Homo sapiens: one gene and its partners. The protein of the gene in region 1 interacts with the protein of each later gene in a biochemical or structural test. Each region holds a gene or a part of one and is shown in the gene's direction. Other genes may lie near its edges.

Region 1 (3,205 bases):
GAACTGGAGCCTAGAACCTGAGCCCTGGATGAAAGTCGAGGGAGTGTGGCCAGGTCTCAATTTGGAAGCCCAGAGTCTAAGATGTCTCTGCCCTTCCCCCTGTAGGGCTACAGACTTCCAAAAGTCAAGGCTCCCTTCTCTACTGATTTGACCCCACCCCAGTTTCGCCATCAAGATTTATCTGCTTCTGGACAGTTGTTAGGGAGCGCCATGTTCACCAGGCCTTCGGTCTGTTGCCCTGATCCTTTCCCCAACCCCCACCAGGTATCCTAAGAAGCTGGTGCAGACATACTCAGTGTTTCCCAACCAGGACGAGATGAGCGATGTGGTGGTCCAGCCTTACAATTCACTCCTCACACTCAAGAGGCTGACGCAGAATGCAGACTGTGTGGTGAGTCCTGGATTCTACCTCTCCCAACTCTCAACACCCCATACCCACTCGAGTCTATTAAATCATTTTCATGTATTTAAAAAAAATCCATTTTAGCCAGGTGCAGTGGCTCATGACTGTAATCCCATCACTTTGGGAGGCCAAGGTCGTTGGATCGTTTGAGTTTAGGAGTTCGAGACCAGCCTGGGCAACATGGCGAAACCCCATCTCTACTAAAAATACAAAAATTAGTCGGGAGTGGTGATATGTGCAGAAGGATCACTTGTGCCTCAGAGGCAGGGGCTGCAGTGAGCTGAGATCATGTCACTGACTGCACTCCAGCCGGGGTGACAAAGTGAAACCCTGTCTCAAAAAACAAGAACAAAAAAAAAAACTGTTTAAATAATTAAGATGAAAAGAAAAATTTAAAAATCCATTTTGAGCCCTCCTTTGCCCTAGGTCAGTGCAAATCTCTTTCCAGTGAGTCTTTCTGGCCATGAAGCTCAAAGGAAATTAAGCTTCAGAGCCTAGGGTCAGGCAGAGCTCCTGTTTTTCTTATCCCCATTGATCTGTGATCCTCTTCTGTCCCCCCAGGTGGTGCTGGACAACACAGCCCTGAACCGGATTGCCACAGACCGCCTGCACATCCAGAACCCATCCTTCTCCCAGATCAACCAGCTGGTGGGCCCCCACTCCTGGACTCCTTTGGACTTGAAGCCCTCCTTGTTGGAGGGTCATTTGGGGAAGGGAGGTCCCACCCAGGCTGAGGCCCATAACATGGCACGCCTGTCCCCAGGTGTCTACCATCATGTCAGCCAGCACCACCACCCTGCGCTACCCTGGCTACATGAACAATGACCTCATCGGCCTCATCGCCTCGCTCATTCCCACCCCACGGCTCCACTTCCTCATGACCGGCTACACCCCTCTCACTACGGACCAGTCAGTAAGAGCAGCCTTCAGTGTCCCAGGCCAGGCCGGCCCTGGGCCCAACAGGCCCTGTCCTAGCCTTTCTCTCTTCCCCACTGCCCCAGGAGCTACCCTTTGTGGACCCCAAGGCGCGGCGCTCAGGGACTGGCACAGAGTGGGCGACTTTCTTGCTGACTTGCTCTCCACCCTCCCTCTGCCTTTGGCTTCTGCCAAAGAGAAGCCAAAGGGGGACTGTGCCCTGAGCGCTGGCCGGGTCCCTGTCTCACTGTCCTATCAGGTGGCCAGCGTGAGGAAGACCACGGTCCTGGATGTCATGAGGCGGCTGCTGCAGCCCAAGAACGTGATGGTGTCCACAGGCCGAGACCGCCAGACCAACCACTGCTACATCGCCATCCTCAACATCATCCAGGGAGAGGTGGACCCCACCCAGGTAGGGGAGGCCCCTTCATCCCACACCCTGGACCTGCAGGGGTAGAGGAGAGGCCACCTCCACTGCTCCTATGCCCACCCCAGGTCCACAAGAGCTTGCAGAGGATCCGGGAACGCAAGTTGGCCAACTTCATCCCGTGGGGCCCCGCCAGCATCCAGGTGGCCCTGTCGAGGAAGTCTCCCTACCTGCCCTCGGCCCACCGGGTCAGCGGGCTCATGATGGCCAACCACACCAGCATCTCCTCGGTGAGTCTCAAAGTTTGCACCTTTTTTCCCTGAATCAGTTTCCTGACTATACCTCACCTCTCTGCATCTGCTGGCCCTGCTTCTAGCTTTTTTGCTGTGGGCATAGCCCAGCCTTGGTTCCCCAGCTTTCTGGGCCACGTTATTCTTTGAAGTTCTTTGTAACCCCTGTTTTCTGCACACCCCAAGCTCTTCGAGAGAACCTGTCGCCAGTATGACAAGCTGCGTAAGCGGGAGGCCTTCCTGGAGCAGTTCCGCAAGGAGGACATGTTCAAGGACAACTTTGATGAGATGGACACATCCAGGGAGATTGTGCAGCAGCTCATCGATGAGTACCATGCGGCCACACGGCCAGACTACATCTCCTGGGGCACCCAGGAGCAGTGAGTCCCCCAGGACAGGGACCCTCATCTGCCTTACTGGTTGGCCCAAGCCCTGCCTGACTGACCACCCCCTCAGAGCACAGATCAGGGACCTCACGCATCTCTTTCTCATATACATGGACTCTCTGTTGGCCTGCAAACACATTTACTTCTCCTCTTATGAGACTATTTATCTTTAATAAAGCACTGGATATAAATCAAGTCACTGCTCCCTTTAAAGCCTTTGGGTTCTGGAGATGCGGTGGGGATGCCTGTTCTTTCTCCATCATTCTGACAGGGTCCTCACCCACTTCCAGCATCTTCAATTCTGAACCAACAGCTTCCCCTAGGTTTTTCCTCTGCCTAGTTTTGGAGAACGCTGGTGGGGTTTGACCCACCTGAAATTCCTTTCCAGGGTAAAAAGGCCCAGAGATATTACTTTGTTCTCTGTCTGACCCTTTCTGGGTCCCCGTTCCCTCCCACCCTCACTGTATCAGGTGAATATTCCACCAGCCTCATGTTTCCACATCAGAGTGTCTGATTAATCACAACCTGAGGCCCAAGGCCACCACCACTGCCACTAGGCCATGAACAAGCAATGGAGTCCAACCCAATACCTTTAAGCTTCTAGCAAGCAGTCCAGGAGAGCCGCTCGTTTCAGGCAGTTGGAGTCTAGCAGCATCAAGTCAGCGACCAAATCTAAAACCTAGACTGTAAGCAGGATCATAAGTGGTTCCATAGCTAAGGCACCGTAATTCTCTTCTCTAGTGGTTGCCAGTAATTTAAATGGCCAGTGCCTTCTACTTCTGGTGGAAGATTGCAGGGAGGTAGTAAATACATAGGGGCCTAAGTCTTCAGGATTGTTTTTTTT
Region 2 (3,649 bases), on another chromosome or scaffold:
GAAAAAAAGAAAAGCCAATCACAGATACTTAACGTGTTATTGCATAACATTTTGGAAATGACAAAATTTAGAAATGGAGGATAGATGAAAAGTTACCAGGGTGTAGGGATGGGGCAGGGTGTGTGGTTATAAAAGGCCCCAGGAGGTAGCCTTCTGCGGGAACAGTCGGGGTTTCGGCCGAGGTCTAGATGTGCACACCCAGATGAGTTACGAGTAAACTGGGCCATGTGAAAAAGACGGGTGCGCTGCCATGTCAGTACCCCAGCTGAGACACTGTTGTGTAGTTTCGCAAACCGTTGCCATTGGAGGAAACTGTGGAAATAAAGACACTGGGATTGCTTTGCTATTTTTACTATTATGCAAATCTGTCATTATCTGAATAAAGATTTCCGTTAAATAAAAAAGATAAAGCTTACATGCTGCTTTATGGAATAATCAGACCTGAAGTCATGTATCAGTCCAGCTGTGGAAAGCCAGCACTCACAGCACCCCTCCCCACAAGGTCTCGTACAATGATAGAATTGGAACTTATAACTGAGTCACACTAAATTGGCCATAAAGCTACTGAAGATTTAGGTTTTTTGCCAGTGAGACAGTCTTCAGGGGATGGGAATGTGTGCTAAAAACTAGGAAAAGTTCACCTTTGCAGTTTCCAGTCTGGGTAATAAAAATCAGTGAGTGACCATCACCCCTGAGTGTCAGCAATAAGTAGTTATACTGTAACAAAATAGTAGTTTATATTCAACTCCACATGCCGTTATCAAAATAAAGCTGGGCCTTGTAGTGTATGTGCATTATTTCAAAATGCAGTTAGCACCAAAGGGTGTAGAGTAAGAGGTAAGTCCCTCCCACACCTGCTAGCCACACACCGCCCCTCTCTGGGAGAGTCTGTGCCCTTTCTGTTGGCATCTTTTTTTTTTTTTTTTTTTTTGAGGTGGAGTCTCACTCTGTCATCCAGGCTGGAGTGTAGTGGCGTGATCTCAGCTCACTGCAACCTCTGCCTCCTGGGTTCAAGCAGTTCCCTGCCTCAGCCTCCTGAGTAGCTGGGATTACAGGCTCCCGCCACCACACCTGGCCAATTTTTGTATTTTTAGTAGAGATGGGGTTTCACCATATTGTCCAAGCTGGTCTTGGAACTCCAGACCTTGTGATCCACCCGCCTTAGCCTCCCAAAGTGCTGGGATTACAAGCGTGAGCCACTGCGCCCAGCCTTCTCTTGGCATCTTTCCACCAGCCAGCTACCTCGCGTGTGTGTGTGATGTGTGAGTGCACATGTGCATTCTATTGAGACGAATTTTTTAAATCCAATCATTGTATTCAGTTCCTCTTCGGCATATATAGTTTATATCATCAAATGTTAACTGTTTATTAGTGCCCTACACAGACTTTTAGGAATGTTTAATATAACAGTTTTAAATTAAAAATACAAACTAGGCTAGGCACAGTGGCTCACGCTTGTAATCCCACCACTTTGGGAGGCCAAGGCAGGCAGATCATGAAGTCAAGAGATCAAGACCATCCTGGCCAACATGGTGAAACCCCGTCTCTAGCTGGGCGTGGTGGTGTGCACCTGTAGTCCCAGCTACATGGGAGGCGGAGGTTGCAGTGAGCCGAGATCACGCCACTGCACTCCAGCCTGGTGACAAAGCGAGAGTCCATCTCAAAACAAAAAAAAAAAAGTACAAACTAAAAAAGTGAGCTTTTCATGGTTAGAAGTGATGGAGAAGGAAAACTAGCCAAGAAGTCCCAAGAGGTATATTGAATTAATAGGAATTAACTTGTCTTGGAGGAACTTACACATAAACATTCTTTAAAAAGCAACGGACATTTTCCAGTCGTTTGTAAGTTCTCTCAGAAACAGAATCGTAAGACCAATGCATTAATTGTGTATTTAATTGTATATTCACACCAAGCACAGGGGCTCATGCCTGTAAACCCAGCACTTTGGGAAATCACAGTGGGAGGATTGCTTGAGGCCAGGAGTTCGAGACCAGCCTGGGCAACATGACCCCGTCTCTACAAAACTTTAAAAAGATGGGCCAGATGTGGTGGCCTGAGCCTGTAGCACCAGCTACTCAGGAGGCTGAGGTGGGAGGATTGCTTGAGCTTGGGAGGTTGAGGCTGCAGTGAACCGTGATTGCACCACCGCACTCCAGCCTCGGCCGCAGAGTGAGGGCCTGCCTCAAAAAAAAGTGTATTCACTTAATTTTTGAAATGTGAATTCAATTTGTGAAACTTTTAAAGTTATTGAGTATTTACTACTAAGAGTAATTTATGTTAAACTATCCTGATTATATGATAGCAGGAGAAGATACTGTTTGCTATTGTAAACATGTTGCTGAGTTGGTATTGATTTGCTTTTGTAGACTTTTGGAACAGCGATCGTAATCAATCCTGAGAAAGACAAAGACATGGTCCAAGACCTGTTGGACTTCAAGGACAAGGTGGACCACGTGATCGAGGTCTGCTTCCAGAAGAATGAGCGGTTCGTCAACCTGATGAAGGAGTCCTTTGAGACGTTCATCAACAAGAGACCCAACAAGCCTGCAGAACTGATCGGTAGAAAAATATTTGTTTTTTTTGTTTGTTTGTTTTTGAGACAGTCTCACCCATTTCTAGACAATTTTTTAATATGGGAAAATAAGGCAAAATCAACCAAAATGTTCAAGCTGCTCAAGGGGTGTGTGGAAAGCGTTTTTATCAAGTCTTATTAGGACACAAATTTAAAAACCGACACACCTGCATGCATGGGTGGAGGAGGGCATTTCCATAAGGGAAGATGAGGTAAGAATTTAGAAAAGAAATGATGCTTGACTTCGCCAAAGAAGGGAGGGGTGATCACCATCTTTGTATCCTCTAATCCATATTAAAATAGGATAAAACCAGATGAGATCTCAAATGATAATACTATTTTTAAGCTGTACAATTTTTTCACAATAATATCAAAATATATTTCAGAATTCATAGGCTTTCTCTAGTCAGTAAAATTTTTTTTTTAATTCGAAGGAGAAAGGGGGCAAAGAGAGCTGAAATACGACGATACTAGATTGACTGTTGATTACTGCTGAAGATGTAAGATGGAACATGGAGCTCATTGTGCAATTGTCTGCTTTTCTGTGTGTTCAGAATATTCCATTACAAAATGTTTAAAAGAAAAAAACTAACAAAAACAGCAACAGAAGGAATTCAGGAGGCAGTTTACTTTGGCTTTTGTTCCTCTGTATCATTTGTGGTTTCTCTAAAGCAAAGGGATGTTGAGCTCTTGGGAGTTTGGGCTTCTGGAAGTCTTGGGTTCTCCCATCACATGGGGACTTTGGTCCTCCCTCCCAAGCCACCTGACGATGGCTTGTGCAGCCTCAGAAACAGGAAGCCCGAGTAGAAATGCTTTCACCCTGCGTTGCCACCTTGGATGCTCTGAGAAAGTCTTTCTCTTTGAGAATGTCTCCTCTGCATTCATGACACCAGATCCTAGAAATAGGCACTCCAGCGTCCGGGGCAGTCACGTCCTGAAACCTGAGCATGTATTTGCTGAAGTCATTTTATTTTGAAATTCAGAGATTGCATTTAAAGATAAGAAAGATATTTAAACCTGCTTTAAACATTCAGTCCTGGCTTCATTAAAATTTTGGCAAGTATTTACTCTCACTTG
Region 3 (3,649 bases), on another chromosome or scaffold:
CGCAGTGATCTGCGGTCTGAAGGAGAGCAGGAAAGGGGGCATGTGTGACTGAGTCTCAGCAGTGTCCAGGTGGACAGTTTGGCTTGGGCATCTGGGGGACATGCTGGTGCCATCTGAGCCTAGGAAGAGCAAGTTCCAGTCCTGTGGAGTCACCACAAATTGGCTTGTCACTCCTTGTTCAGGAAACTTTTGACGCTGGGCTGCAGGCCTTCCAGCAGGAAGGCATTGCCAACATCACTGCCCTCAAAGATCAGCTTCTCGCCGCCAAACACGTTCAGTCCAAGGCCATCGAGGCCCGGCACGCCTCCCTCATGAAGAGGTGGAGCCAGCTTCTGGCCAACTCAGCCGCCCGCAAGAAGAAGCTTCTGGAGGCTCAGAGTCACTTCCGCAAGGTGAGGATGGGGCCACGTGAAGCTTAGCTGGCCCACAGCTCAAGGAAGGACGCCCACCTTCTGTCTGCCCAGCTCTGCCACTCCCCCTTGAGGAAGCTGTGAGCTCAGTGCAGAGCTTTCAAACATGGGTGTGGCTGGCATCAATTAAAACCAGGGCAAATGAGAGGGCCCTGTGAGATCGCCATTCAGAAGCACGCAGGACAGACTAGAGACAAGGGCAAAGGGTAGGAAGGGGAAAAAAGGCTGGTGAAGACTTGAAGGGGGAGCAGGAGACAGGAGCAGAGGGGAGCTAAGCTCCCAGCAGGCTGTGTGCGCCTCTGATTCCCAGGAACCACCCCGCACCCCACCTCCTGCACTGCGTCGGCACGTCCAGCCCTGGCGACTCCGCCAACTCAGTCTCTTCTGCTTCCAGGTGGAGGACCTCTTCCTGACCTTCGCCAAAAAGGCTTCTGCCTTCAACAGCTGGTTTGAAAATGCAGAGGAGGACTTAACAGACCCCGTGCGCTGCAACTCCTTGGAAGAAATCAAAGCTTTGCGCGAGGCCCACGACGCCTTCCGCTCCTCCCTCAGCTCTGCCCAGGCTGACTTCAACCAGCTGGCCGAGCTGGACCGCCAGATCAAGAGCTTCCGCGTAGCCTCCAACCCCTACACCTGGTTTACCATGGAGGCCCTGGAGGAGACCTGGAGGAACCTACAGAAAATCATCAAGGTACACCTCCCGCTGCCCTCAGGAGCTGCTCGGCCTCCCAGAGCCCTCTCTGGGCCCTGCTCAGAGCCCACACTTAACTGAGTCACGACAAGACGAGCAGGATGGAGGAGCATGGTTTCATCAGAAGTTTCATTTCTTTTTGTGTTCTTGAGGCAGGGTCTCTGTCACCCAGGCTTCAGTGCAGTGGTGCTACCATGGCTCCCTGTAGCCTCAACCTCCCAGGCTCAGGTGATCCTCTTGCCTGAGCCTCTTGAATAACTGGGACTACAAGCACGTGCCACCACGCCTGGCTAATTATTTTAATTTTTGTAGACAGGGTGTTGCTATGTTGCCCAGGCTGGTCTTCAACTCCTGGCCTCAAGCAGTCCTCCTGCCCAGGCCTCCCAAAGTGCTGGGATTACAGGTGTGAGCCACTGTACCCAGCCAGAAGTTTCCATTTCTGACAGTCCAGCAACTCCCTGCTTGACTGACCAGTCGCTTCCCTCCAGGTCCGCCTCTTCCTTGAAGCCCCTGGGGGGTGGGAACAGAGAAAGAACTACCAAGTGCTCTGAGCCGGCCTCATGTCTCCCAGCCTCCTCCTCTCATCTTTGGGGAGGTTCCTTGTGGGGAGGCCACCACCACCCTGAGCCCATCTGTGAAGGAGGGGCTGGTGTCACTGCCACAGCAGCGCACAGCATCTGCCCCCCTTTGGCCCTCAGGAGAGGGAGCTGGAGCTGCAGAAGGAACAGCGGCGGCAGGAGGAGAACGACAAGCTGCGCCAGGAGTTTGCCCAGCACGCCAACGCCTTCCACCAGTGGATCCAAGAGACCAGGTGCCAGCCCGCTGGGGCCGGGGAGCAGCAGCATGTCCCTGCTGTACTTAAGCCCTGGGGAGCTTCCAGCCCCAAGGAGGTGGTGGTGCTTTGTGTAAAACCAGAGGCAGCCTGGGAATAAAGCTGGGCTGGCAACGCCTGGTCGGGCTCTGGAGCCGGGAGTGGGGGCATAGGTGGAGCAGCCTCTCAGTGCTGCATGTCCCAGACATCAAGTTGTTAGAGATCCCGGATTGAGTGGGACCATGCAGGGCGCGTGGTCAGCCCCAGCCATGACTTGGTGACAGACGATGCAGGGTCTGTGCGTTGGGTACTGATGTTCTTGCTTTTGTTTTCCTTTCTTTCTTGTGTCTTCTCTCTGTCCCCCCGATTGCTGCTGTTGTCCGGACACCACCTTGTCTCCCGGCTGCTTGGATCTGCTCTCCACAGGACATACCTCCTCGATGGGTTAATATTGTTTTCTTCCTTCTCTGGGCTTGTCATGTGGGGGTCTCGTGCGCTTGCCCCTCGTGGCCTGGCTTGTGGAGGATCCCGGGATGGGCCTTCCTGCCCAGGGCGGGCTGCACTTCCCCTCCCACCCTTCTCGTCACCTGATGAGGAGTGTGTGCCTTGCCCCATAGCCCATGGTCCCTGGTCCCCGATAGAGCCTTCAAGCCAGGGGGAGCCGTCCTTGCCTCACTGGGCGATTCCAAGGGCTCACTTTGGGTAGGGAAGGTGATGAAGCACGAAGGCCAGAGCTGGAGTCCAGAGGCCCTAAGAACCCCCGTGCCTGTCCAGCCACCGGGCTCTGTTGGGCTCTCACCTCTGCTTCCCCAGCGAGTCCAACAGTGGTCAGTGGGCATGAAGCAGATGGCAGTGCTGGGGGCTCAGGCAGGGTACAGTAAGTCCACAGCTGAGAAGGGCTGGGCACTGACACCCCCTAAGTAGCTGAGGCTGCCACTTTACTTTCCTGGGGTCAGGGAGGGTAACAAGACTGTCCGCCCTAATAGAAGGCAAAAATGCACCCGTTATGTGATAGACAGGACGTGGGAGGAGCCCCAGGGAGGAGCAGGGCTGGGCTGTCCCGCCCAGTCCCGGCAGGGACTTCTCTGCTTGGCCTGGGGCCTCTGCCTGGCCGGGTCACCTTTGTAATCTGCCAAGCCTGCTGTGAAAGCCAGGGCTGCTGGGACTGGAGTGGCTTGGCCTGCACTCCTGAGGCTCTGCACCCAGGCACATCAAGCCTGTATAGGCGGCCAGGGGAGAAATAGACCCATCCAGCCGGGCCACACATTCTGATGGCAGAGCAGCTGGGGACGTAGGGATCGCAGTTTCCGGCCTGTGCCCGTAGGACACCCTGGCCACCTGACTCCCCTCCCTGCCCCATGCCTGTGTCTGCTGGTCTTGCTCTTGTCTCCGTGAGGTGCCACGCTCCCCTCACCTTATGGCTCCTCCCAAGCCCTGCCCATCTTGCCCATTCCTAGTGTGAGCTGCCTGGGGTGAACCACTGGGCCTGCTGCCTCCAGGTACCCGCCGGGCACCAGGTTGCCCTTGCCTGCGCCCTGCCAGCTTGGGCTTTGTGTGTGTCTGTTGCAGTGTGCTCTTGCCTCCCCTCCCTTTGGTGTATTCATTTGGTTTCTTTTCTTTGAATAGCATAGCATATCGTCGGGTCATTCGTGTCTATCAGTATGAAGTTGGGGATGATCTGTCTGGAAGGTTTTTCTCCTTATTTCTCTTCTTACCTCACTGTGGCTTTACTGATGC

The links.
Region 2: of the proteins of TUBG1 (region 1) and CUL4A, one has a biochemical effect on the other in vitro, tested with the Homo sapiens proteins (one study listed by BioGRID).
Region 3: the proteins of TUBG1 (region 1) and SPTAN1 form a complex in vitro, tested with the Homo sapiens proteins (one study listed by BioGRID).

Annotation. Positions count from the first base shown.
Region 1 is NC_000017.11:42,612,683-42,615,887, forward strand, and holds the end of TUBG1 (tubulin gamma-1 chain), read left to right. Parts: intron 1-264; coding exon 265-391; intron 392-964; coding exon 965-1,051; intron 1,052-1,166; coding exon 1,167-1,316; intron 1,317-1,577; coding exon 1,578-1,730; intron 1,731-1,813; coding exon 1,814-1,975; intron 1,976-2,161; coding exon 2,162-2,359; 3' UTR 2,360-2,556; downstream 2,557-3,205. UniProt on the Homo sapiens protein: Tubulin is the major constituent of microtubules, protein filaments consisting of alpha- and beta-tubulin heterodimers. Gamma-tubulin is a key component of the gamma-tubulin ring complex (gTuRC) which mediates microtubule nucleation.
Region 2 is NC_000013.11:113,240,602-113,244,250, forward strand, and holds part of CUL4A (cullin-4A), read left to right. Parts: intron 1-2,366; coding exon 2,367-2,559; intron 2,560-3,649. UniProt on the Homo sapiens protein: Core component of multiple cullin-RING-based E3 ubiquitin-protein ligase complexes which mediate the ubiquitination of target proteins. As a scaffold protein may contribute to catalysis through positioning of the substrate and the ubiquitin-conjugating enzyme.
Region 3 is NC_000009.12:128,625,587-128,629,235, forward strand, and holds part of SPTAN1 (spectrin alpha chain, non-erythrocytic 1), read left to right. Parts: intron 1-182; coding exon 183-392; intron 393-804; coding exon 805-1,101; intron 1,102-1,417; coding exon of another isoform or gene 1,418-1,504; intron 1,505-1,799; coding exon 1,800-1,912; intron 1,913-2,338; coding exon 2,339-2,356; intron 2,357-3,538; coding exon of another isoform or gene 3,539-3,601; intron 3,602-3,649. UniProt on the Homo sapiens protein: Fodrin, which seems to be involved in secretion, interacts with calmodulin in a calcium-dependent manner and is thus candidate for the calcium-dependent movement of the cytoskeleton at the membrane.